Linked DNA regions of Homo sapiens. The protein of the gene in region 1 purifies or fractionates together with the protein of each later gene. This does not show direct contact. Each region holds a gene or a part of one and is shown on either strand. Other genes may lie near its edges.

Region 1 (2,703 bases):
GCGAGACTCCATCTCAAAACAAAACAAGATAAAATAATAATTCCCATAAGACCCAATTTACAGATGGAGAAACCGAGTCTCCAAAGTCATCTGCCAAGGTCACCAGCTAGTGGGTTGGGAGCTGGGACCTGTCAGCTCTTCACCATGACATGGTGGTGGCCCTGTGGGCATTTGGCAGGGTGTGGTGTTTCTGCTGTGAGGTGGGGGACCCAGGAAGAGCAGCCACCCATATCCAGCCTTGCAGGCCCAGAAAGAGCCCAGTGAGTGGGGTGGGATGAAGGTCAGGCCAGGAGCTCCAGCCAGTCAGCCCCCAGACCCCGCATCTCTCCCTTGTAGCTGGGGCCTGGCGCCTGAAGCAGCTGCTCAGCTTCGCCCTGGGGGGACTCTTGGGCAATGTGTTTCTGCATCTGCTGCCCGAAGCCTGGGCCTACACGTGCAGCGCCAGCCCTGGTAAGTGAGGCCACACGCCAGGGGCAAGACAGTGCCAGGAGTGGGGGCCTGGTGCCCACGCCCAGGGATGGCCAGGATGACCAGGAGAGGGATTCTGGGTTTCTGGCAGGAGCTTGCCTGGGAGGGAGGGAGGGTCATTGTCCTGGTCTCTGGGCCCTGGTCCCAGTGGGAGTTCTGGGCCCCAGCTGCCCAACCCACCCTTGTCACTGCCCTGGTGCCCTGGATGAGATCCCATTCCAAATGGCCCCCTCCTATGGCCCTGGCTTGGCTTGGCCTGGCCTGGCCTGGCATTGCCGCCCCCTGCAGGTGGTGAGGGGCAGAGCCTGCAGCAGCAGCAACAGCTGGGGCTGTGGGTCATTGCTGGCATCCTGACCTTCCTGGCGTTGGAGAAGATGTTCCTGGACAGCAAGGAGGAGGGGACCAGCCAGGTGGGCCCCACACTCAAGGGCCTGGATATATCAGCCTCTGTTCTGTGGTAGTGCCCGGGGCCTGGAGGCCCAGGGTCTGAGTTGAGCCCTGAAAAGAGGGGTCTCCTGGCCCTCTCCTGGGAGCTGCGGGAGGTTGGGCCACCTTCTTTGGGACTGACACCATTAGCCCCTGATGTAGCTTGTTCTGGTAGCCTGATGGTGACAGCAGTTGGGGAGGGTTTGTTGAGTTTGGGGGCACCCAACTGATATAGCAGCAGAGGATTCTAGCTAGAAAAAACAGGGGTTCCTATCTTTTTTTTTTTTTTTTTTTTTGAGACGGAGTCTCGCTCTGTCACCCAGGCTGAAGTGCAGTGGCACGATCGTGGCTCACGGCAACCTCTGCCTCCCGGGTTCAAGCGATTCTCCTGCCTCAGCCTCCCGAGTAGCTGGGACCACAGGTGCGCGCCACCATGCCCAGCTAACTTTTGTATTTTTAGTGGAGACGGGGTTTCACCATGTTGTCCAGGATGGTCTCGATCTCTTGACTTCTTGATCCACCCACCTCAGCCTCCCAATTATTATTATTATTTTTTTGAGAAGAGTCTCGCTCTGTCACCCAGGCTGGAGTGCAGTGGCGCGATCTCGGCTCACTACAGCTTTCACCTCCCAGGTTCAAGCAATTCTTCTGCCTCAGCCTCCCAAGTAGCTGGGACCACGCCCAGCTAATTTTTGTATTTTTAGTAGAGGTGGGGTTTCACCATGTTGGCCAGGCTGGTCTCGAACTCCTGACCTCAGGTGATCCATCTGCCTTGGGCTCCCAAAGTGCTGGGATTACAGGCATGAGCCACTGCACCCAGCCCCCGTCTCTCTTTCTCCATCTCTCTCCCCTTCTGTCTGCCCTGGCTGAGTGGGGGGCATCTAATGTCACCTCTCCCTCCTTCTCCTGGCCCTAGGCCCCCAACAAAGACCCCACTGCTGCTGCCGCCGCGCTCAATGGAGGCCACTGTCTGGCCCAGCCGGCTGCAGAGCCCGGCCTCGGTGCCGTGGTCCGGAGCATCAAAGTGAGTGGCCTGCTCAGGGCCCCTGCAGCCGTACTGCCCTGAGTGGCCAGCCCCACTCAGCCCTGCCTCCTGCCTTCCCTCCTTCCCAGGTCAGCGGCTACCTCAACCTGCTGGCCAACACCATCGATAACTTCACCCACGGGCTGGCTGTGGCTGCCAGCTTCCTTGTGAGCAAGAAGGTGAGGGGCTTGGGGCCAGTGGGGCTCTGGCGATTCCAGTGGCAGCCATGTGGATTCCACCTGTGTCTGGAGTCTCTGCTTCTTGCCCCTCCATTGCCAGCGCCCTCATCTAAGGCTCTCATCCCCCATCCTCCCTGCTGCTGTCCTGGCCGCCACTGTTCTCTGATCCTGAGCCCCTGGTCTGTTCCTGTTCCCAGTACTCCTTGTTGGGTGCCTCTGTCAAGCTGCTAGGCGTGGCCCCTGCCTGCTCCTAGATGCTTCTTCCTCTACCTCCTCCCTCTGGCCTCTGGCCTCTGGCCCAGAGGCAGCCTACTCTGCAGCTGGCCGAGATCTTTCCCACCTCACACTGTTCCCCCTGCCTGGAATGTTCTCCCGCCCACGCTTCGAGCGGCTGACGACTCATCCTTGGGGCCTCGACTTACATGGACTCCTCCACCAGGCCTTTGCTGACCTCCTCATCTAAATTTGGTTCCTGGGCCTGCTCCCCTGGGCACTCTATCCATCCTTTCCTTCCCAGCGCCTGTGAGTGTGTGAGTGAGTCCTGTCTCTCCCCTCTATACCGCTAGCTTCGTGAAGGCAGGTTCCTTGTCCCCTTTAGTCACTGCT
Region 2 (3,500 bases), on another chromosome or scaffold:
CTGGTCTCGAACTCCTGACTGCATGTGATCTGCCTGCCTCAGCCTCCCAAAGTGCTGGGATTACAGGTATGAGCCACTGCACCCAGCCAAGGGCCCACATGTAAAGGCTGGGCCTCACCCCAAGGCGTGGGGAAATACCTCATGAATTCATGAATACACTAAATTAACTTGTCAACTGGGATTTTTTTTTTTTTTTTTTTTTTTGAGATGGAGTCTCACTGTGTCGCCCAGGCTGGAATACAGTGATGCCATCTCAGCTCACTGCAACCTCTGCCCCCTGGGTTCAAGTGATTCTCCTGCCTCAGCCTCCAGAGTAGCTGGGATTACAGGCATGTGCCACCATGCCCAGCTAATTTTTGTGTTTTTAGTAGAGATGGGGTTTCACCATCTTGGCCAGGCTGGTCTTGAACTCCTGACCTCGTGATCCACCCGCCTCGGCCTCCCAAAGTGCTGGGATTATAGGTGTGAGCCATTGCGCCTGGCTGGGCTTTTTTATTGTTATTTTTTGATTTGGGGTTTCACTATGTTGCCCAGGCTGGACTCCCAACTCCTGGGCTCAAGCGATCCTCCCACCTTGGCCTCCTGAGTAGCTAGGACTACAGGCATGTGCCACCATGCCTGGTGTGAATTGGGTTTGAAATAGGGTCTTTCAGAGCCTGACAGGCTCCATAGCACCCCAAGGGCCAGCAAGGGGTGAGGCAATAGTCACCGTGGGCTGGGACTCAGTGTCTTCTCCCCAGAGGCACCGGGCCTCCCTGCCTCTCATCTCGCCCCTCCCCTCTGCCCTCCATGGTTGCAGCTTACAGCCATTCCACAGCTCCCTGCGGCTCTGAGGATAAGGCCTTGGGTACCACTCTGGGCATTCAAGGCCCTCACCACCCTCTGGGACTTCCCCTCTCTACCCTGCTCACTGGATCCAGCCCCATGAGATACGCCAGGCTGAGCTCGTGGGCTCTTTCTCCACCAGGCTCAATTCCTGTCTTCCAGAGCTTTCCTCAGATCCTACCTGAGCCCTGGTCCCAAGCAGAAATTGCTCCCTCCCCAGCCCCTCTGTTGGCCCAAGTATGCCAGCACCCTCTCAGGCGGCACAGCCTGGCTATTATCTGCGGGATTTATTACCAGCCTTCCTAAGAGCCTGTCAGCATGGCTGAAAACAGCTTGAAAACCAATGAGCCAGCAGGTGAATGATCGCGTACGACAGATGCTTCACACCAGTCTACACTCCTGGGGCCGGTGCCAACCCTGGGAAGAATCAGTAAAAGGCAGCTCCCCTCTGGGCTGACTCAGCCTCGAGACAGGACACGCATTTTGGCAAGCGGAGCACAAGTTGGGTGTCAGCCTCCACCTGGCCCCTGGGCCACGAATCCTTGGATGGTGAACAACCTGTGCAACTGTTCAAGGCAGCCCGGCACTCACATGTAGCAGAATCAAAAGGGAGCTTGTTAAAAATATAGTTCCCTGGGCCCCAGTCCCAGAGTTTCCAATTCAGTCCACTAGGACTGGAGCCCAGGAGGCTGCATTTGTCAGCCAGCTCCCCCAGTGATAATGATACCCAGTCAGGATGGGGACTTGGAACAAACAGCCCAATTAGTAATGATAATAATCATCATCCTGGTAATAGCTAACTCTCACATAGCACCTCCTGTGCCATGTGGGAGGCTCTATTCTCAGCACTGTGCATGTTAATTCATTTAATCCCCACAACACCTCTATGAGTTAGGTCCCACCATCATCCCTACTTTGCAGATTTTGAAGCTGAGACACAGAGAGGTTAAGCAACTTGTTCAAGATCACACAGCGAGAAGAGAGTAGAGTCAGATTCAAATCCAGGAAGTCTGCTTCCAGAACACACCCCCTTCACCGCATCACTAAAGCGCCCCTAAAGCCGGCACTCAGTGAGCGGCTGTCAACCCTTATGTAGCCCCTACCACGAGCCGAGCACTGCCCAGTGCTTCTCACAGACTCACTCATTTCATGCTCACAACCCTACAAGGCAGATCTCGCTATCATCCCCATTTTCCAGATGAGAAAACTGAGGCTCAGAGAGATTAAGAAACCCCCCTAAGGGGTGTTGAGTAAATGAAGTAGGGAAGGGAAGGGGAAGGGAGGGGAGCGGAGGAGAGGGCAAGAAGGGAGGGAAGGGAGAAAGGGAAGGGGGGAGGAAGGAGGTGGGGAGAGGGAGGGAAGGGAAGGAAAAGAGGAACAGGAAGGAAGGGAGGGAGGGAGGGGAAGGGGAGGGGAGGGGAGAGGAGGGGAGGCGGAAGGAAGGGGAAGAAGGAAGGGAAGGGAAAGGGGAAAAGGAAGGGGAGGAGAGAGAGGGAGAAAGGAAAGAAGGGAGGAAGGGAGGGAGGAAGGAAGGAAGGACAGGGAGGGAAGGGAAGGGAAAGAAAAGAGGAAGAATGGGAAGGAAGGAAGGACAGGGAGGGAAGGGAAGGGAAAGAAAAGAGGAAGAATGGGAAGGAAGGAAGGGAGGGAGGGAGGGAGGAGAGCATGACGCAGGAACAATGCATGAAACAGAGACAACTACAGGGGGCCTGACCTGGTCCCCACAGCGCAGGGCCGCAGGAGGCGTGGCAGGCGCATGCTCACCTTGGAGGCCCGCAGGCCCATGAAGATGGCGAAGAGCAGCAGCAGCAGGGAGGTGGCCACCTTGAGGTCGGTTAGCACCACCATGCCCACGTTGACGAAGATCGCCACGCCGGAGACTACCAGCATGAGGTTGAGCAGGGCGCGCTGCAGGGTGGGCGTGCGCACCTTCAGCTCCGGCAGCAGCTGCTCCAGGCCTTCCAGCGGCGTGTCCTTGAAACTCTTCAGTACCAGGTGTCCCCGTTTGGTCCGGGCTGCCAGGACCACCCGCTTAAAGTATCTCCTGAGGGACAGAGACAGAGGCAGGAGCAGGATCGGGACTGCACTGCCCGGGGAGCCCCCTCCAATCCTAGGACGCTCACTCTGGCTCTACAGTCGCACAACCATCTTAAAAGCGACTCAGTAATCATGGGGAAGAAACCAGGGATCAGCTGTGTCCAACCACAGGGGATCGGTTCAATCGCGCCATCGATCCCTGGTATTGGACGTGCAGATTGTTTGTTGGAATCCTGGCCGTGCCGCATCTTCAGAATGTGGACCTCCCTCTCCGAGCCTCAGTTTTCCTTATTGGAAAATGGGGAGAACTGTCCCCATCCTTTCTCTTCCCCTGGGAATCAAGTGTAGTACTCACTTTCCCTTGAGAAGAAAAGACAGCATTTGGATGAGTCACGCCTCCCATTTCTCAACTTCCCGCCTGGGGCCCAGACACCCAAACCAGACACTGACCTGTCAGTCCCCTCTTGACTCTAACCTTGCTCCCTCTTGCTGCAGCTGGGGAACAAGGGCCGCCTCACCTCTCCGCAGGGGGCAGCTTGGTGAAGAAGCCACGCCTGGAGCCCACGCTGGACTTCAGGGGCATCTGCCCGACTCGCTGGCCCAGGGCCCAGAAGTGAATGTAGACATACTGATCCAAA
Region 3 (3,500 bases), on another chromosome or scaffold:
ACCTTTAGAAAAAGGAACTGCTGTTAAATGTTGGGCTGTCATTTCAGTAGTTTGATGAATCCAGTTGTTTTAAGTGACCTCTACCGGTTCACTTACATGAATTCCAAAAACTTAATAGCAGATACACGCTGTGAATGATTTGCCCTTATTTCAGAACTTTGTTAAGATTGCGTTTTGGGGATGACTAGTATTAATTAACCAGTTTTTTTAAATCAGAAGTAAAGAGTAGAACTTGATACCAGTGTTGAAATTATTTGCAGGAAAATAAGACACAGGTATTTTGACCTGATATGAACTTAGTTATGAAGCAAATTTTTTTCCCCATATGATGCCATGAAAAGTTATAGTATTTAATTTATGATAATAATTTTAAGCTTTAGTATATCTGAGAACTACATGTGACTACTCCTTAAAAATCAATTTAAAATGTGATACAAGTGATTAGAAAATATTCCCTCCAGGTCTTTACTAGATAGTCATAAAAAGATTTGACTTATATATTACAAAGGAGAATTTTCATTTGTTCTTTGTGAATTTCTTCTCCTTTTCCTTTGAATCGTGAAGAAATGTTTGGAGACTCACAGGAAGAAAGTGGCAGTAGAGCTGCTTTACAACTGATACATTTTTTGAAGTAGAGATGGTTGTTTTACTGGCTTCTCATTTTTCACTGTCTCTCTCATTTTTTATTTAGAATTTTCTCCCAAACTGGTTGGCTTGACTGGCACGAGAGAAGAGGTCGATCAAGTGGCCAGAGCATACAGAGTGTATTACAGCCCTGGCCCCAAGGACGAAGATGAAGACTACATAGTGAGTAAATGTTCCAGTTTTAACCCATGGACCAGCTCCCAGATCCCAAATAGTCATAAGGCTTTCAATGACTGACTAGCTTCTGAGAAGAGAGAATACCTAAGATTATTGCAAAGTCCTTAGGAATTTTTTTTTTTTTTTTTTTGAGATGGAGTCTCATTCTGTCATCCAGGCTGGAGTGCAGTGGCACAATCTTCGCTCACTGCAACCTCCGCCTCCCAGATTCAAGCAATTCTCCTATGTCAGCCTCCCGAGTAGCTGGGATTACAGGTGCGCGCCACCACACCTGGCTACTTTTTTATATTTTTTGGTAGAGACGGGGTTTCACCACGTTGGCCAGGCTGGTCTCGAACTCCTGACCTTACCCGCCTCAGCCTCCCAAAGTACTGGGATTACAGACGTGAGCCACCGCATCCAGCCTCCTTAGGAATTTTGAATATTTGAAAGGATAATAGAAGCATGTTTTTTACTTTTTATTTATTTTCGAGACGGAGTCTCACTCCGTCAGCCAGGCTGGAGTGCAGTGGTGCGATCTTGGCTCACTTCGACCTCCGCCTCCCGGATTCAAGCAATTCTCCTCCCTCAGCCTCTCGCGTAGCTGGGATTACAGGCATGTGCTCCCACGCCTGGCTAGTTTTTGTATTTTTAGTAGAGAAGGAGTTTTGCCATGTTGGCCAGGCGAGGCCAGGGGGTCTCGAATTCCTGACCTCAGGTGGTCTGCCCTGCCCACCTCAGCCTCCCAAAGTGCTGGGATTACAGGCCTGAGCCACTGCGCCCAGCCAGAAGCAGTTTTTTAAAAGATGATTGTTTGATTTATATTCACTGTTCTCATAATTCAATTGCCTGTTTTTCTCTTATAGTGGCATATAGGATTTTAGGGCAGTTTAAAACCAGATACTTGGGTGCCATGTTGGAAATAAAGAGAAGCCATCATTTGGAACAACACTTATTTTAAAAAGATTGTGTTGGTTCTCACTGTGTCCCCAGTAGAGGTATCAGAAATTGCTCTTCTGGAGAACCAGTTTTAGGCCATGGAGAACTGCATTTTTAGGTTGAATGAGAATTCTGAAAAGCAAAAGATGAAAGGTTTATTTGCCCATTGACTATATGCCTTGGACAGTTAGGCGTTAAATATGTGCTTTTTAATGATAAGGAACAGAAATTCTGTTGTACTTGTGTAGCTCTTAAATTAACTATCTTCATATTCATCAGCACTGCCCCAGAAGCCTTAAGGTCATGCCCAAGTTACTGTGTTTCTTTTCTTGTCAGTGGTTTCACAGTGAAGCACCAAAAGGCATTAGCACCACCACTATCCACCAATTTTCCTCTCAATTTGGACATTTTTCTCCTATCATATGAAGAGTCGGCGTTGTATTTTAGCATTATTTCAGTATTTTTCTTAGTTGTCATACTCTGTTTTTTCTATAATATTGTTTGGGCAGAGTAATCCTAAGAGCCTTTCTAGCTGTGAAGCTGTCTTTGTAGAAAGAAAGATGGCCAAGACCCTGAGTCACTGATCCAGCAGCTCCCCATGGCCCATCCCAAGAGTTGAGATGCAGAGGGGATGGGATGTCTCACTGCAGTGCTTTGTCTCAACAGCCAACTATGATTTCTTTGTCCCTTTGAACCTGGAACGTGTGTGCCCCTGGAGCCTACAGCCTGAATTAAAAGCAAGGTTCTGGCCTGTTTGCCTTAATTAAGCCTACACAGTAATCCTGTCTTCCAGATGTGGTGCCTCGTAGAATTAGGGAAACTTGGATTCCTTGGAGTAAAAGATGAGAAAAATGAGCACTTTTCTTTAAGCCTTAATTGTAAGGAAAGTAGAGGGACCCTCCTCTGTTTTCCTCTTGCTGCTTCTCTAGCAGAATGAGAGAAGAGCAGAGAGCCACAGTGGCCAAAAGAGGAAACCATAGGAAAAGGACTTTCCGGACTTCTGTCTTTATAGAGAGTTGTATTAACTGGTTTTGAGTTTATCCGATGATGACAGCAGGAATAGATGAGCTCATCAGTCTGATTTCCAGCATTAAATGAGTTATATTAAATTGTTTAAATGTATACAGTCCTAAACTAGGTAACACTCCATAGTCTTGATGCTTAGAACTCATAACTCAGAGTCAGAAAGTCAAATCAGAAAGCAGTTGTACAAATAAACCCAAACAGCCTGCAAAACTTAAATTGAAAACATTCAGTTACATTGACAAGAGATTTTGCTGAAACCAAAGTGCTGCTCAGGGCAAGAAGGGAGGGGGTTTTGGTCAGACTGCTATCACATACCCAACTCTACTCAACTGCCCCTCTGCATTTTCTATTTAAAATACTTTGAAACCTTTAATCGTGTAGCCTGCCTTGCCTGGTTAGTGTTGATTTGGCAAGAATGTATCATATTCATGTCTGCCTGTAACAGCAGTGGGCAGCTAGGTGCCAGTGAGATCATGGAGCAAACACAAGCCTGGGCACTGAAATTTATACTCACAACACAGATAATCCAGAATATGGATATTAATGTTTTTAATTACAAATGAAAACAAAAATATGTAAGTCTTATGGAAACTTCTTGGACCTTGTAGAATGTATCTTTGGCCCCATTTTGAGAAATACTGGCCTACTGCCATAAGAATTTGACTTTTGATGAGATTCGATGAGGAATTCATGCTGTACATTTGCTAAATCATCCAATAGGGGGAGACATTCTT
Region 4 (3,500 bases), on another chromosome or scaffold:
CCCCTCAGTCTCTTTTTTCAAAGGCATCACTATGGTTTTGAGTGTTTTCTAGGACCTTTAGAAATAATAGGACCCAGACAGTTGTAACCATATAAACTGACATAAGTACGAATCTACTTTAATGCATATTAACCGACATCACAAGGACCACTCTTTTCCCTCTTTTCTCTAGTGTCTCTTAAAAATCTGTTATACTAAAGCTCTTTTTTCCTGATCCATGGTTTAGTTCCATATTTGAAATCACTTTTTTTTCCTATTTGGTTTCTCTGCTACTGTGGTCTGGCTGTGTTAGCTTGTCATCTTTTTCAACTGATAAACATGTTTTCTGTTACTCCTTCCACTTTTCCTTCCTATTTTGACTTAAGTTCTTCACATTCATCTCTTACTTATTTCTTCTTCCTTCCCCTGTCATCCTTTCCACTTTCCACCTTTTATTTCCCTCCTCCCATGCTTTTTTGGGGCATTATTTGCAACTCCAAAGACAAATGGTATCTGGAGGCATTTTCTTATTTTATTAACTTTGTCTTCTAATCATAGAAATGACATAAAAGATAATATCTTTGCTGGGCACGGTGGCTCATGCCTGTAATCCCAGCACTTTGGAGGCAGAGGCGGGTGGATCACGAGGGCAGGAGATCGAGACCATCCTGGCTAACATGGTGAAACCCCTTCTCTACTAAAAATCCAAAAAATTAGTCAGGTGTGGTGGCGGGCGCCTGTAGTCCCAGCTACTCAGGAGGCTGAGGCAGGAGAATGGCATGAACCTGGGAGGCGGAGCTTGCAGTGAGCAGAGATCGTGCCACTGCACTCCAGTCTGGGCGACGGCAGAGCGAGACTCTGTCTCAAAAAAAAAAAGAAAAAAAAAATTAGGCCAGGCGCAGTGGCCCATGCCTGTAATCCCAGCACTTTGGGAGGCCGAGGCGGGTAGATCACCTGAGGTCAGGAGTTCGAGACCAACCTGGCCGACATGGTGAAACCCTGTCTCCACTAAAAATACAAAAAATAAGCCGGGTGTGGTGGTGCATGCCTGTAATCCCAGCTACTCAGGAGGCTGGGACAGGAGAATCGCTTGAACCCAGGAGGCGAAGGTTGCAGTGAGCCGAGATCATGCCACTGCACTCCAGCCTGAGTGACAGAGTGAGACCTTGTCTAAAAAAAAAAAAAATCTTAACCATGTAATAAGTGATTATGGTTGTTGGTGCTGAGTCACTATATTCACTTTGTGTGTGTATGTGAGGGGTGCTTAATTTGCATAGACACTTCCATTTTTGTCCTTTTTTTCTTTCAGGTTGCTAGGAAGAGGCTCAATGTTTGTGTTTTCACCAGATCAGTTTCAGAGACTGCTTAAAATTAATCCAGACTGGAAAACCCACAGACTTCTTGATTTAGGTGCTGGAGATGGAGAAGTCACAAAAATCATGAGCCCTCATTTTGAAGAAATCTATGCCACTGAGCTTTCTGAAACTATGATATGGCAGCTTCAGAAAAAGAAATACAGGTATAATTTTCTTGGTTTTAGATGCATTTCTTCTTGAAAGTATATTATTTAAAGGATATGAATAAAAAATGATCTTCCATGATTAGAAATTTAAAAAATCATCTCATACATAATTAACTGGAAATGTAGAGAAATAATCTTCTGGTAGCAGTATTTTTCTGGAGCGGAGGGGTTGGCACTATAGGTAAGAAAAGCACTAGCGAGAGACAACTTGGAAAAGGCAGATCAGAAGAAGGGACTTCTTCCCTAATCAGAATGTGGCATTCTCAAAAAAAATTTTTTTAAGTAGTGGTAAAATACACATAGCATAGAATTTACTGTTGTAACTATTTTTAAGTGTACAGTTCAGTGGTATTAAGTACATTTACATTGTTGCATAATCATCACCACTATTCATCTCCAGAAATTTTTGTCTTCCGAAACGGAAACTCTGTACCCAATAAACAATAACTCCCCATTTTTCCCTCCTCGTAACCCCTGACAACCACCATTCTACTTTGTCTATGAATTTGACTATTCTGGGTATTTCGTATAAGAGGAATTATATACATTAGCTCCTTGTGACTGGCTTATCGCATGTAGCATAATGTCTTCAAGGTTTACTCATGTTGTACCATGGGCCAAAATTTTCTTTTCTTTTCTTTTCTTTTTTTTTTTGAGATGGAGTCTTGCTCTGTCACCCAGGCTGGAGTGCAGTGGCACGATCTCGGCTCACTACAACCTCTACCTCTCAGGTTCAAGCAATTCTCCTGCCTCAGCCTCCCAAGTAGCTGGGATTACAGGCATATGCCACCATGCCTGGCTAATTTTTTTGTAGTTTTAGTAGGGATAGGGTTTCACTATTTGGCCAGGCTGGTCTCGAACTCCTGACCTCAAGTAATCCAAAGTGCTGGGATTACAGGTGTGAGCCACTGCGCCTGGCCCAAAATTTTCTTTAAGGATGAATGATAATTCGCTGTATGCATGTACCACATTTTGTTTACCCATTTATCTGTCAGTAGATATTTGGGTTGTTTCTACCATTTGGCTGTTGTGAATAATGCTGCTATGAACATGGGTGTACAGATACCGACTTGAGCCCCTACTTTTACTTCTTTTGGGTATAGACCCAGAAGTGGAGTTGCTGGATCACATGGCTAAGTCTGGGTTTAATTTTTTGAGGAATTGCAATACTTTTCCATTGCTGCTGCACCATTTTACATTCCCACCAGCAATGTAGTACAAGGGTTTCAGTTTCTCCACTCCTTGACAATACTTGCTATTTTCTGTTTTGTTTTGCTTTTAGTTTATAGTCATCAGTGTTAATCTTGGTTTTAAGGTCATCTGGAGTTTGAAAGACTAGGAAGAAGGGCCTTTTTTTTTTTTCTGGAGATGAAGTTTCACTTGCCCAAGCTGGAGTGCGGTGGCGTGATCTCAGCTCACTGAAACCTCCACCTCCTGGATTCAGGCAATTCTACTGCCTCAGCCTCCTGAGTAGCTGGGACTACAGGCACATGCCACTATGCCCGGCTAATTTTTTTTTTTTTTTTTTTTTTGTATTTTTAGTAGAGACAGGGTTTCACTATGTTGGCCAGGCTGGTCTCAAACTGCTGACCTCGTGATCTGCCTGCCTTGGCCTCCCAAAGTGTTGGGATTACAGGCGTGAGCCACTGCACCCGGCTGGAAGAAGGGTATTCTTATTTCAGTATGATTTATTGATTGGGAGATTTCTATATATTGGCTCAGTGCAGAATCAGGGAGGTAGAGCTGGAGTCAGCCTTTCTCTGTGATATTTTTGGAAGTCTGGTTAGCCTTAGAAAGAAAGGAGAAGAAATTATGTAATCACTCACTTTCCTATCCACATGTTTCTACTTTTACAGATTAATCCTAGAGATAGAGCATCAGTGTAGCTTTTGGAGCAGGACTGGTTTGAGCATTTGCAAAACATGGAGATTTTTAGCCTGGAGAAGGGAAGATTTCTGTGAACAGATACGCTGTGGGATTTTTATATGGAAGGAAAGGA
Region 5 (4,202 bases), on another chromosome or scaffold:
GCCACCACTCCATGAATGACCACAGCTGGACCTGTGGTATCTTTTCTGAGATCCCTCTTGGTTCCCAGAGCTGGATAAATTACCTTGTCTTCCTAGCCTCCTGGAGTTGGACCCATGTCTACATTTCACAGTTCCCCTTGAGTGCCCAGAACTATATCCATGCTCCTCTCCCTCACTCCAACTTGAATGTCTGTAACCTGATTTATGTCCTGGTGTATCCTCTTCATCCTCTTCTGTTTCACTTTCTTCTTCTTGGTGTCGGTGACCACGCCTATGCTTCTTTGACCCTGAAGCTTTGCAGTATTCTTTGCTGAGGACCTTGTTGCAGGCCATAGTCAGCTTGAATATCATCAAAAGAAACTCAGTAAAGTCCAATCTTCTGTCATGATCTCGATCCAGCATATGCATGATGACATCCACTGTGTCTGGATCATCTGGGTTCTGTATATGAGTGACACACCAAGGGAGACCTGGTCAGCCTAACCTGCATACTCAACTAACACATTTAAATAGCGCTGTGAAATTATGGATGTTTGACATGATGTAGTTTTAGTCCAATAAAGGATTACTTTAGGTTAATAGAACCCAGTAAATGTTAAGGGTTAATAGAAAATAAAGACTACTGGGATCCTCAGAAGAAGACATTTCAAGGATTTAGGCTAAAGGATTAAGTGCTTAGGTAAGGCCTACAGGAAGGAGTGGAATAAACTAAGTTCAGTAACTGGTATTTCTAAGTTTTACATAAATTGTAACTATTACATGTTAATATCTTCCATGTTGGAATTTATCATCTATTATTTTGAAGTTAATAACTGAGTCTTTTTTTTTTTTTTGAGATGGAGTCTTGCTCTGTAGCCCAGGCTGGAGTGCAGTGGTGCGATCTCTGCTCACTGCAAGCTCTGCCTCCCAGGTTCACGCCATTCTCCTGCCTCAGCCTCCCGAGTAGCTGGGACTACAGGGGCATGCAACCACGCCCGGCTAATTTTTTGTATTTTTAGTAGAGATGGGGTTTCACCGTATTAGCCAGGATGGTCTTGATCTCCTTACCTTGTGATTCACCCACTTCGGCCTCCCAAAGTGCTGGGATTACAGGCATGAGCCACCGCGCCTAGCTGAGTCCTTTTTAAGTAGATGGAATAAAATGCTGGCATTTTATTTTTGATTCTTAATCATGGCTATTTTGTCAACTCCCTATGTAGATGATTTCCCTTTCTATACTTTTTTTTCCATTTGATAGGATAATTTATTAATTCGTGTCCTAGTATAATTTTATTTTCTGCTTTTTCTAAGGAAAAGCCTGGGTGTATGAGAAAGTCTGAGAGTCTATGAGGTAGGAGTGCATAGGTGGAAAAGTGAGGACGAAACATTCACTTTCTTTAAAATATCTGCTGCTTTAACAGACTTTCTGGCATCCCCAAAATACCACTCATAGAGTTTGCTTAGAGTTCACTGGGGCTGTGCACTTTTTAGCTGATCTGGGTCATACAACAGAGCTTGTACAGGACTCCAGCAGCCTTCAGTTCTGGCACATGGCTCTCACCTTCAGAACTGGATGAAGCTCTTTCTCCAGAAGTTCCTTTAGTTCACCCTTGCTCAGTGTGCCACACTCCCCATCTTGCTTGGTGTATTTGTAGAAAACATCAATTACGGTGACAACACTTCTCAAGAGGTCGGTCATCTTTTTGCAAGTTTAAGTGAACCTGGACACAGAAAAACAAAGAACCCTATTATTCATATTCTCTCCTTTTATCAGCAATTTTCATTTTAATAATAACCAGCATGATTTTTTTAACCTCTTGTTTTTTAAATCTCAAAACGTAAGAATGGGCCAGGGATGATACAACCCCGTTTAACACAATGAAAATTAACTTTGTTAACTTTGAGTTACTTTTCTGTGATCAAGTCTTGGCATGTTACTGGTTCAACTGAGAATAGACCTCAAGTCTCTATATTTCCTGTCATGGGTAAGTATAGTCTCTACATAGTATCTCTACACTTTGAGTGTGTTGGCATTCTGGGTGTTGTTCTAAGGCTTCCAAAATTTCCAGAACCAGCCAGACACCATTGCCTCAATCTCTCTTTCTAGTTTCACTGCTTTTCTTGAGTCAAAAGTGACAGACCTTCCACCATGCACATCTGTTTATCCTCTGGGCACCAGAAGCTAAACTGGACCCTTAAGGCCTTCAGCAAATTAAAAATGGGCAAAGGGGCTCAAAATAGCTTGGTGTTTCATAGGCATGAGACAGTAGAACTCAGTAGAGCTTAGGAACTCTCTTAATGTCAAGCACTTGACCAAACACTGTTTTCTTTAATTAATCAAGAAGAAGAGCTCAGCAATGCAGGCAGCAGTTTAACTAGTGGATAATTAGATCTTGGAGCTCTGGGAACCAACACTGAATAAGGAAGGGACTCTGCAACAGACCCAGCTGCCTCCCAGTTTGAGCTGGACAGCCCAGAAAAGAGGGCATGGAAAAAGACTCGGAACAGACTGTGGAATGGCCTAGAGGAAGGTGAACTTTTACTTGCATTATTCTTCTCCATAAAAATGAACTTAACTACAAAAAGGCCCCAGAATAAACTAAACTAACCAAACAAATAAGCAAACAAAAAGAAAAGAAAATGAAAGAAAGAAACAAAAAAGAAAAGAAAGGCAAAATATACATGAACTCTGCCTTAGCTTATATCCCTAGACTTCTACTATGGACAACACCAAATATTCATAAATGTAGCTGGATGAATTTTCTCTCACCTGGTTCACCAAAGGAACAAGTAGGATAAAGCCTGATGCAGCTTGCAGGGTGACGATGGATTGGGATAATGACCCTTATATAGCTTATAGTGATTATAGTGAATGAGGTGATTCATTTTCCATCAAACCTAACTCCACCTCTACATATTTACCTTCCTCCTTCACATTGTTATCTACAGATGATTGCAGAAAGGCTAGTACCAGCCCCACCTTCCAGTACGAGGACATGGTTGCAAGATACCTTTTTTTTCAGGGTCATATACATGTGAAAAGCACAGACTTTGTTTTAGAGGACTCATGTTATACATTTCTTTTAACTAGTACCCACAGAAAGTAGCAGAGTGTAAGATACTTGGAAGGTGCACAATAAATGCTTATTTAATTGAAAATGAACCTGAGCCACTAGGTTCATCTAATTCATGTCTTTTTTGTAATAATAAAAAGTGACATTTATTGAGAATTTACTATGTGCTAAATACTTTAAACAAACCATCTCAATCTTTAAAAAATCTGCACTTTTAGTTATGGGTACATAGTTGTATATAATTGTTGGGTACATGTGATGTTTTGATATGGGCATACCATGTGTAATGATCAAATTACAGTAATTGGGGTATCCAGCACCTCAAGCATTTCTTTGTAGTAGGAACATTCTAATTCTACTATTTTAGTTATTTAAAAATATACAATAAATAGTTAACTATAGTTACCATATTATGTTACCAAATACTAGATCTTATCACCTCATTTAATCTTCACAACCTTCATACGAGATATGTATTTATTATCCCATTTTATAGAGACAGGTTCTGGAAGCATAAGGATCTTCTCCAAGGTCATAGCTAGTAGGCAGAGAAACCAGAAGTTGAACCTGTATCTACCTTATTGCAATTGCTGTTTACCATTATACTAACTTACCTCTGTGTATTTATCATATATAACTATCATGCAAAAATTATGCACCATTTTAGGAGTGTAAGGCCCACTCAAACGCAAATAATATAAAAAAGTAACATACAGAGTGCTGTTAGGAAGAGAGGAAACATTCTCTGACCTTGTGAAGGCTCATTTCTAGGCTAGAAAAGTGTAATTGGCTATATATAAAAATAATGTTTTCAGATATGTTCAGGGTGAATTTAGAGTGAGCTTTCTTCCAGCACTCTGCGATCCACTGGTAGTCTGGCATGTTTAGGGCCTGGACCCTTGGGAAAATGTTCACTTATGTACAGAAAGTATATCAAATACACTTGAGGGTAACAAAAATAATCAGAGAGCTGTAAGTCTTAAGCATGGAGAGCCAATTCTGCTGTACTTTGCTACCAGGTGATAATGATGATGATGAGGAGGATAGCAGCTACCATTAAGTGCTAAGTGCTTACTATCTTCTATACATGGTAGGTTTACATGCTTATCTATTTATTCCTCAAAATAACCCCATTTTATAGATAAGGTA
Region 6 (3,500 bases), on another chromosome or scaffold:
AGCCTTTACTGACTCAGGAGATACAGGGGCAGGTTTCTGTGGTTCTGGAGAAGGAACAGGGGCAAGTTTCTGAGACTCACAAACAGGGACTGATTTTGGAGGTTCAGGAGAAGAAACAGAGGCAGGTTTTGAAGGCTCAGGAGAAGGAAGAGGTGTCTGTAGCTCAGGAGAAACAACAGAGCCAGGTTTCTGAGGCTCCAGGGGAGTAAGAGGAGTAGGTTTTGGCGATTCTGGAGACAAAACTGAACCAAGTTTCTGTGTTTCCATTGAAAGGGCAGGTATGGATTTTGGTTCTGCTGAATTGCAGGGTATTTTCTGGTGTTCAGGAAGAGGAGGGCTTTTCACAGGATCTGTTTCTTTGTTCAACTGATTTTTTGGTTTATCATTCCATTTGTCTGGGGATGCATGTTTGGATGTGATGTGATAGTATACATTAGAGTACATCTTGCTGGTGAAGAAGCATTTATGGCAGTGAAATAACTTTGCACTTTTCTGGTAAAATATCATTTTGCCTAGCCCACCAGCATCCATTTCATCACAAAATTCTGGATGGATGGTACCCATATGGATTTGTACATTTTCATAGTCTGTGCCTCTGAAACTGCAATGGTCACACTCCAAACGTGCTGATGGTTTACGAAGTTCCTGGAATGCTTCCATTCTTCTGTCTGTTACCAACACACACGGTTATATTCTTTAAAAACTTTCAATACTGCTGCAATAAAGTAGGAATAAATTATTTTCATGAACTGTAATTCTGAATAAAATGCTGTCAGTCCATTCTATAACTGCATAATTTTAAGTCTAGAACAGTGCGTGCTTTATTTGATAGTATCTCTAGGGAGAATTTGAAGAAAAAGGAGATATAGAACAGTCCCAGGCACTCTGCTAGGAGTTTCACATACATCATCTCATTTAATCCTAATGATATGACTCAACTATTATTTTCACTTACAGATGAAGAAACAGGTTCAGAGAAGTTACCTGACTTTCTCTGGTCCAGGCTATAGGACTATCAGTGATGTGAGCCTGACTCTAGAATTAGCTATTGCATGTGCTTTATACTTTGACTCTCAAACTCCGAGTACAAAAGTCCTCAGCACACAAAGATGAGTGAATATCAAAATTAAATCTTGGCTATTTAAGGATGAACAAGAGACTAAAACTTTTGCAGAAAGCACTTAATAAATTAAATCTAGCTATAAAAAGATGACTTTAAAACATGATGCTGGCTTGATTTCATGTCAACATATTTTGTAATGTTTAATCTATCCCAATATAGTATTCTATTAATTCATTTAATAAATAAATAACTTTGTGTCCTACAATGTTCTAGGCACTTAGGCTTAAAGCAGTGCTTTGCAATATGGCGTTCATGAGTTGGAAAGATAAGGTGGAGAGTGATGTAGAGGCCGTTGGAAAAGACCTCTATGCATGGGACATTCCAGCAGAGATCCTGAATGATGTGAAGGCGCATACCAACCAAAGGGCAAATCAGAGGACACCCCAGCAGCTGGAACACAGTTGCCGGAAAACATGAATTTAAAAAAATTGTAAACCAGTCTTCTTAAGTAGTAAAGGGAATAGAAGCTCACAGTTAAAAACACATTCACACAGTACGAGATACAGAGTGTCAGTCCCTAGGGGTAGCCAGTGTACTCATGTGTCCTGGAAGAAATGTCCTAAGCATATATTGATCAACACACATGCTTTACACAAATGGGATATTAAACATATTATCTGGCAACTTACTCTCATTTAGAATTTATCTCTAAGACATTTTTACATATGGAATAAGCACTGACTTTCCCTGTACTTATCTGTGCATGTGAGGGTATTTCTGCAGGGAAAATTCCTAGCAATGGATTACTTGGCCATTTGTGTGTAAAATTGATACATTTTACCAAACTCTCAAAAACTTCTATTACTGCATAACAACGTGTATATATGAGAGACAATTTCCTATAAATTCCTAATCCTTGCTACAACCTAGGTGAAAGCTAGTATTTCACTATTGTGTTAATGTGCTTCTCTTTAATGAGAAAGACTGAACACCTTCCCTTATTGACGGTAATGATATTTACTCCTCCTCAAAGAACAGTACAGATTAGAAATGCAGGCTCTCCCTTTATTAATTACAAAACCATTATTTTAAAAAAATGTATAGGCTGGGCGCAGTGGCTCATGCCTGTAATCTCAGCACTTTGGGAGGCCGGGCAGGCAGATCACGAGGTCGGGAGATCAAGACCATCATGGCCAACATGGTGAAACCCCATCTCTACTAAAAATACAAAAATTAGCCAGGCGTGGTGGCGTGTGCCTGTAGTCCCAGCTACTTGGGAGGCTGAGGCAGGCCAATCGCTTGGACCAGAAGTCGGAGGTTGCAGAGAGCTGAGATCATGCCGCTGCATTCCAGCCTGGTGACAGAGCAAGACTCCATCTCAAAAAAAAAAAAAAAAAAAAAAATTAACATTTCTAACTTTGATAATTTGTTTTTAAAGATGTTCTCACTGGCAATACTGCTTCCTAACACTTTTATCCAAGGTATATCATTTGCCTTTTTTATTTTTTGATCTAAAGCTAAAAAGGTGACAGATACTTGAGGAAACAAATACTTTTCTTCGGAAACTATTTACTCTTTCTGAGTTGCCCAGCAGTTATCCTGTATTTTAGAAAACTGTTTTGGGGCCAGGACTGTAACAAAAGAAAAATAAATAATTCCGTACTGATGAAAAATCTCTGAAAATGATCTTTAACTTACAAACGTAATTGAATGCATGGAAAAATAATGGGTTAACCATCCGTCTCAGAGCCCATTGTTAAATAAAACTAGAAGACTTTAGGGGAAAACGTAGGATATGTCTCAATAATCCCATGAGGCAATAATGAACAGCCCAACTGGCAATAATGAACAGCCAAGCTAATATTAAAGAGCACTATATTACATATTGTAATTACAACAGAGACTAAGAGCTCAGGTGTGCTGGGTTTGAGTCTGACTCACCTACCATTCCCCATTCCTCCCAGCCATCCCTCCTCTTCCCGCTGCCTACCACCAGCTCTTCAGGCCAATCTCATACTTAAATCTACAAAGAATGCTACAGAATTCACTTCTCATATCCCAAATTATGTATATCTAGCACACAACACACATTATATCCATAAGGGCGTGTACACTTTTAGAGATTTTCCTCAAGAACTCCAGGTATTTTTTTTTAATTTTCTCCTCATAAAATATTCTCCTAAGCATGCTTTCCCTACTAGACTTACCTGCTGTCTTACTAGACACCTTAAAAGTGGTCTTCAAAAGGCAGGCATTCTACATGGCTTTTTGACTAAACCACAGCAAACAGCCTATAGTATATGAAGAAGAACAAAGATGAGAAGTTGAACCTGGAAAAAAAAAAAAAAAAAAAGAAAAGTAATCAAAACTATATCTGTGATCGTGTGTGCCCCCTGTAATGGAATTCTGTGTATTTCTCTCACCATCCTGCCCTAAC
Region 7 (3,500 bases), on another chromosome or scaffold:
TTGTAAAGTTCTGATACCAAGGGTTTTCCTCTTTATTTTACCCTGGAGAGTCACCATAACTGCCAGCTTGTAGAACTTAAAAGTTGTCCCAGGAAAACATAGACCTGGATAAACTTTTACAGCACCGTTAAGACCAGCAAACCTTTTAACGGTTTTTACTATTTTAGGTAAATGAAACCGATTCCAGCCCTTCTGTTGTGGGCATAATGCATTTCCTTTCTCTGTTTTTCACCATATCAAATGACAGCAGATATTAATTTCACCTGTCATATTTAAGAAAAGCCCCAAAATTGTAAAATTGGGGACACAGATTCACACTTCCCTGTACTGAATAAGGCACTGACTTCCACAGTTTTCTCCTCTCTCCTCCCATCTTAGTGTTTCCAAAGTAATTTTTTTTTTTTTAAGACAAGGTCTTGCTCTGTTGCACACATTGGAGTGCAGTGGCGTGATTATGGTTCACTCCAATCTCTGCCTCCCAGGCTCAAGTGATCCTCTCACCTCAGCCTCCCGAACAGCTGGTACTACAGGCATGTGTCACCAAGCCTGGCTAATTTTTGCTTTTTTTTTTTTTTTTAATTGATGGGGTTTCAACCATGTTGCCTATGTTGAGTTTTCTCAAACTTCTGGGCTCAAGTGATCCACTTGCCTCAGCCTCCCAGTGTTGTGATTACAGGCATGAGCCACTATGCCTGGCCCCAAAGCAATATTAATGGAAATAAAAATAACAGTTTATTTTCATAAATTAAAACACCCTCCTTAAATCTTGCCTTCCCCTCCCCCCAAATTACTAAATCACTATTTATATGTAGAAAAAGGTAGACTTATACGCCTTTAGGTCACAGTATATGGGCCAAACTTAAGGCCAGTTTTTTATTATGAATCTGGAGTGAAGGTTTGATTTCACCAGAGTTACTCTGCCATCTTCACGGCTATTCTTTGCTTTGCATTCCAGACTATAACCCAGATGTGGATACAATCATATGAACATCTATTCTATCATCTTTCCTTCCCACATCCTTCATAATCACTCTTTTTCTGGGGAAATTGGAATTGTTCAGTGGGCTCTATAGAGATGAAGTGGGCAGAACGAATGATTCCATTGAATTTCAATCAAAAGTTACATGAGAAGAAATACGATTTGATATTCTGACTTCACATGTACCTTCTTTACGTCTAACACTTAGAATGGGGTCAATAACTCCTCTACATATGAAGACTAAGACACAAGGAAAGATGTGGGGTGGGAAATATGAAAATAAAAATAAAAAGAAGCTGGACATGGTGATACATGCCTTTAGACCCAGCTATTATACTTGGGAGGCTGAGGTAGGAGGATCACTTGAGCCCAGGGTGGTTGAGGCTGCAGTGAGCCACTACACTTCAGCCTGGGTGACAGAGTGAGACCCTATCTCAAAAATAACAACAACAAAAGCCAAAAGAGAGCTGTGATAAGAGGAGAAAGAAGCAAAGGAAGAGGAGAACTGGAGACAGTAATAGAGCACTACTAAGCAACTTTCTTAGCTGTTCTAAGTAAACAAACAAAAAAAAATAGTCTCCATGTGACCTTAGGATAGCTCTAGAACCTCTGTCCTTTGGTGGGACTATAAAAATTGAACTACATATTGTAAAATTCACAATATATTGTAAAGATACATAACCCTAACTACTACATATCACAGTTTGAGGGAAAAAATCAGATTCTTACCCAATAACTGGATGTTTGAAGCCAAGCTTCTTGGTGGCTTCTTCTATTTCTTTTTCTAGCCAAGGCTGTGGGCGGATCAAGTATTTGACAAACTGAGACACCCACCACACTGCAGGGTCACCATGCACTCGTACAAGTCGATCTGCGAGGTCTTCTGGTACAGCCAAGGGTAAATATGGAGGACGGGGATGAAGACTGTCTACAATGGGAAGCTCGACCACTTGAACATTTTTGTCCTTCACTTCACCTGACAATATTGAAACATATAATCATTACCACATGGTATTCCTTATACATCCACCATTCAACAAGAACTTATTCTGAGTGCTTTCATCCTCACAGCAACTCTAAAGAAGTATAATCTTCACTTTACAAAGGAAGTTAAATAACTTGCTCGAAATACCAGAGCAAAAGTGACGGAGGTGAATTTCACATGCAGGTTAGTCTATCTCTCAAGTCTCTGGTCTTTTCTAAAAGTTTCTATCATAACATGCTATCATACCAACACCTCATGGTATGCAGAACTCAAAGTATCTAATCAAAGAATGACAGTAGACACAGCCAGCTAGCAAAGTTCTATTTTTTGTTGTTGTTTTGGAATTAGAAAATAAAGTGTTCTCGAAACTTCTAGCTTTTCATTACAGCAAAATTGCTCTTGCATTACTTTCATGACAGAACACAATGACTCTGGAAACACCTGAAGATTATAATTATAAGCCAATCATCTACATCTTTTAAAGAAAAAAATTAGATAATTCTAAAATCTTTTTTTTTTTTAATCTATTGGAGGGAGATGAAGCAAGATGGCTGAATAGAAGCCTCAACCAATCGCTGCCCCCACCACAGGAACACCAAATTTAACAACTATCTACACAAAAAAGCACCTTCACAAGAACCAAAAATCAGGTAAGTGATCACAGTACCTGATTTTAACTTCATATTGCTGAAAGAGACACTGAAGAGAGTAGGAAAGACAGTTTTCGATTGTCTACTACCCCTTCCACCCCCATGCAGTGGCCGTGTGGTGCAAAGAATCTGTGTGCTTGGGGGAGGGGGAGCACAGTGATTGTGGGACTTTGCACTGGAACTCAGTGTTACCATGTCACAGCAGAAAGCAACACCAGGCCAACTGGCAAGCAACACCCGGGCCATTAGCAAAGAACTCAGCCAATGCCCATGGAGGGAGAACTTAGATGTGCCCTAGCCAGAGGGGAAATGTCCATCCCAGCGGTTGGAGCCTGAGTTTCAACAAGCCGCACCACTATAGGCTGAAGTGTCCTGGGGCCCTAAATGAACTTGAAAGGCAGTCTAGGCCACAAGAACTGTAATTTCTAGGCAAGTTTTAGTGCTGTGCTGGGTTCGAGAGTCATTGGACCTAGGGGGCACGTAACCTAGTGAGCCACCAGCTGAGGTGGCTAAGGCAGTGCTTATGCCACCCTTTCCCTAATCTAAGGCAGTGCAGTTCACAGCTCCAAAAGAGACTCCTTCCTTCCACTTGAGCAGTAGAGAGGGAAGAGTAAAGAGGACTTTATCTTGCAACTTGGATAACAGCTCAGCCACAGTGGAACAGAGCACCAAGTGGGCTCTTGGGGTTCCTGATTCCAGACCTTGGCTCTTGTATGGCACTCCTGGACCTGCCTGGGCCAGAAGGGAGCCCAGTGCCCTGAAGGGCAAGTCCCAGGCCTGGCAACATTCACCACAAGCTGACTGAAGAGCCCTTGGGCCTTAAGTGAACATGAACCGTAGCCTGGCAATAATCCCTGTGGGCTTGTAGTGGTGGTGGCCATAGGGA

Evidence for each region.
Region 2: the proteins of SLC39A13 (region 1) and TMEM143 purify together in Homo sapiens (affinity purification with mass spectrometry; one large-scale study listed by BioGRID and IntAct). This does not show direct contact.
Region 3: the proteins of SLC39A13 (region 1) and SCO1 purify together in Homo sapiens (affinity purification with mass spectrometry; one large-scale study listed by BioGRID and IntAct). This does not show direct contact.
Region 4: the proteins of SLC39A13 (region 1) and METTL9 purify together in Homo sapiens (affinity purification with mass spectrometry; one large-scale study listed by BioGRID and IntAct). This does not show direct contact.
Region 5: the proteins of SLC39A13 (region 1) and FLG2 purify together in Homo sapiens (affinity purification with mass spectrometry; one large-scale study listed by BioGRID and IntAct). This does not show direct contact.
Region 6: the proteins of SLC39A13 (region 1) and CHAMP1 purify together in Homo sapiens (affinity purification with mass spectrometry; one large-scale study listed by BioGRID and IntAct). This does not show direct contact.
Region 7: the proteins of SLC39A13 (region 1) and FUT8 purify together in Homo sapiens (affinity purification with mass spectrometry; one large-scale study listed by BioGRID and IntAct). This does not show direct contact.

The regions. Positions count from the first base shown.
Region 1 is NC_000011.10:47,411,590-47,414,292, forward strand, and holds part of SLC39A13 (zinc transporter ZIP13 isoform a precursor), read left to right. Parts: intron 1-336; coding exon 337-450; intron 451-756; coding exon 757-878; intron 879-1,810; coding exon 1,811-1,918; intron 1,919-2,007; coding exon 2,008-2,097; intron 2,098-2,695; coding exon of another isoform or gene 2,696-2,703. UniProt on the Homo sapiens protein: Functions as a zinc transporter transporting Zn(2+) from the Golgi apparatus to the cytosol and thus influences the zinc level at least in areas of the cytosol. May regulate beige adipocyte differentiation.
Region 2 is NC_000019.10:48,339,941-48,343,440, forward strand, and holds part of TMEM143 (transmembrane protein 143), read right to left. Parts: coding exon 3,381-3,500; intron 2,870-3,380; coding exon 2,590-2,869; intron 1-2,589.
Region 3 is NC_000017.11:10,684,034-10,687,533, reverse strand, and holds part of SCO1 (protein SCO1 homolog, mitochondrial), read left to right. Parts: intron 1-691; coding exon 692-807; intron 808-3,500. UniProt on the Homo sapiens protein: Copper metallochaperone essential for the maturation of cytochrome c oxidase subunit II (MT-CO2/COX2). Not required for the synthesis of MT-CO2/COX2 but plays a crucial role in stabilizing MT-CO2/COX2 during its subsequent maturation.
Region 4 is NC_000016.10:21,616,577-21,620,076, forward strand, and holds part of METTL9 (protein-L-histidine N-pros-methyltransferase isoform 1 precursor), read left to right. Parts: intron 1-1,288; coding exon 1,289-1,498; intron 1,499-3,500. UniProt on the Homo sapiens protein: Protein-histidine N-methyltransferase that specifically catalyzes 1-methylhistidine (pros-methylhistidine) methylation of target proteins.
Region 5 is NC_000001.11:152,357,207-152,361,408, forward strand, and holds the start of FLG2 (filaggrin-2), read right to left. Parts: upstream 2,801-4,202; 5' UTR 2,750-2,800; intron 1,701-2,749; 5' UTR 1,679-1,700; coding exon 1,541-1,678; intron 442-1,540; coding exon 1-441. UniProt on the Homo sapiens protein: Essential for normal cell-cell adhesion in the cornified cell layers. Important for proper integrity and mechanical strength of the stratum corneum of the epidermis.
Region 6 is NC_000013.11:114,321,003-114,324,502, reverse strand, and holds part of CHAMP1 (chromosome alignment-maintaining phosphoprotein 1), read right to left. Parts: intron 3,394-3,500; 5' UTR 3,271-3,393; intron 2,441-3,270; exon of another isoform or gene 716-2,440; 5' UTR 661-715; coding exon 1-660. UniProt on the Homo sapiens protein: Required for proper alignment of chromosomes at metaphase and their accurate segregation during mitosis. Involved in the maintenance of spindle microtubules attachment to the kinetochore during sister chromatid biorientation.
Region 7 is NC_000014.9:65,720,230-65,723,729, reverse strand, and holds part of FUT8 (alpha-(1,6)-fucosyltransferase), read right to left. Parts: intron 1,956-3,500; coding exon 1,709-1,955; intron 1-1,708. UniProt on the Homo sapiens protein: Catalyzes the addition of fucose in alpha 1-6 linkage to the first GlcNAc residue, next to the peptide chains in N-glycans.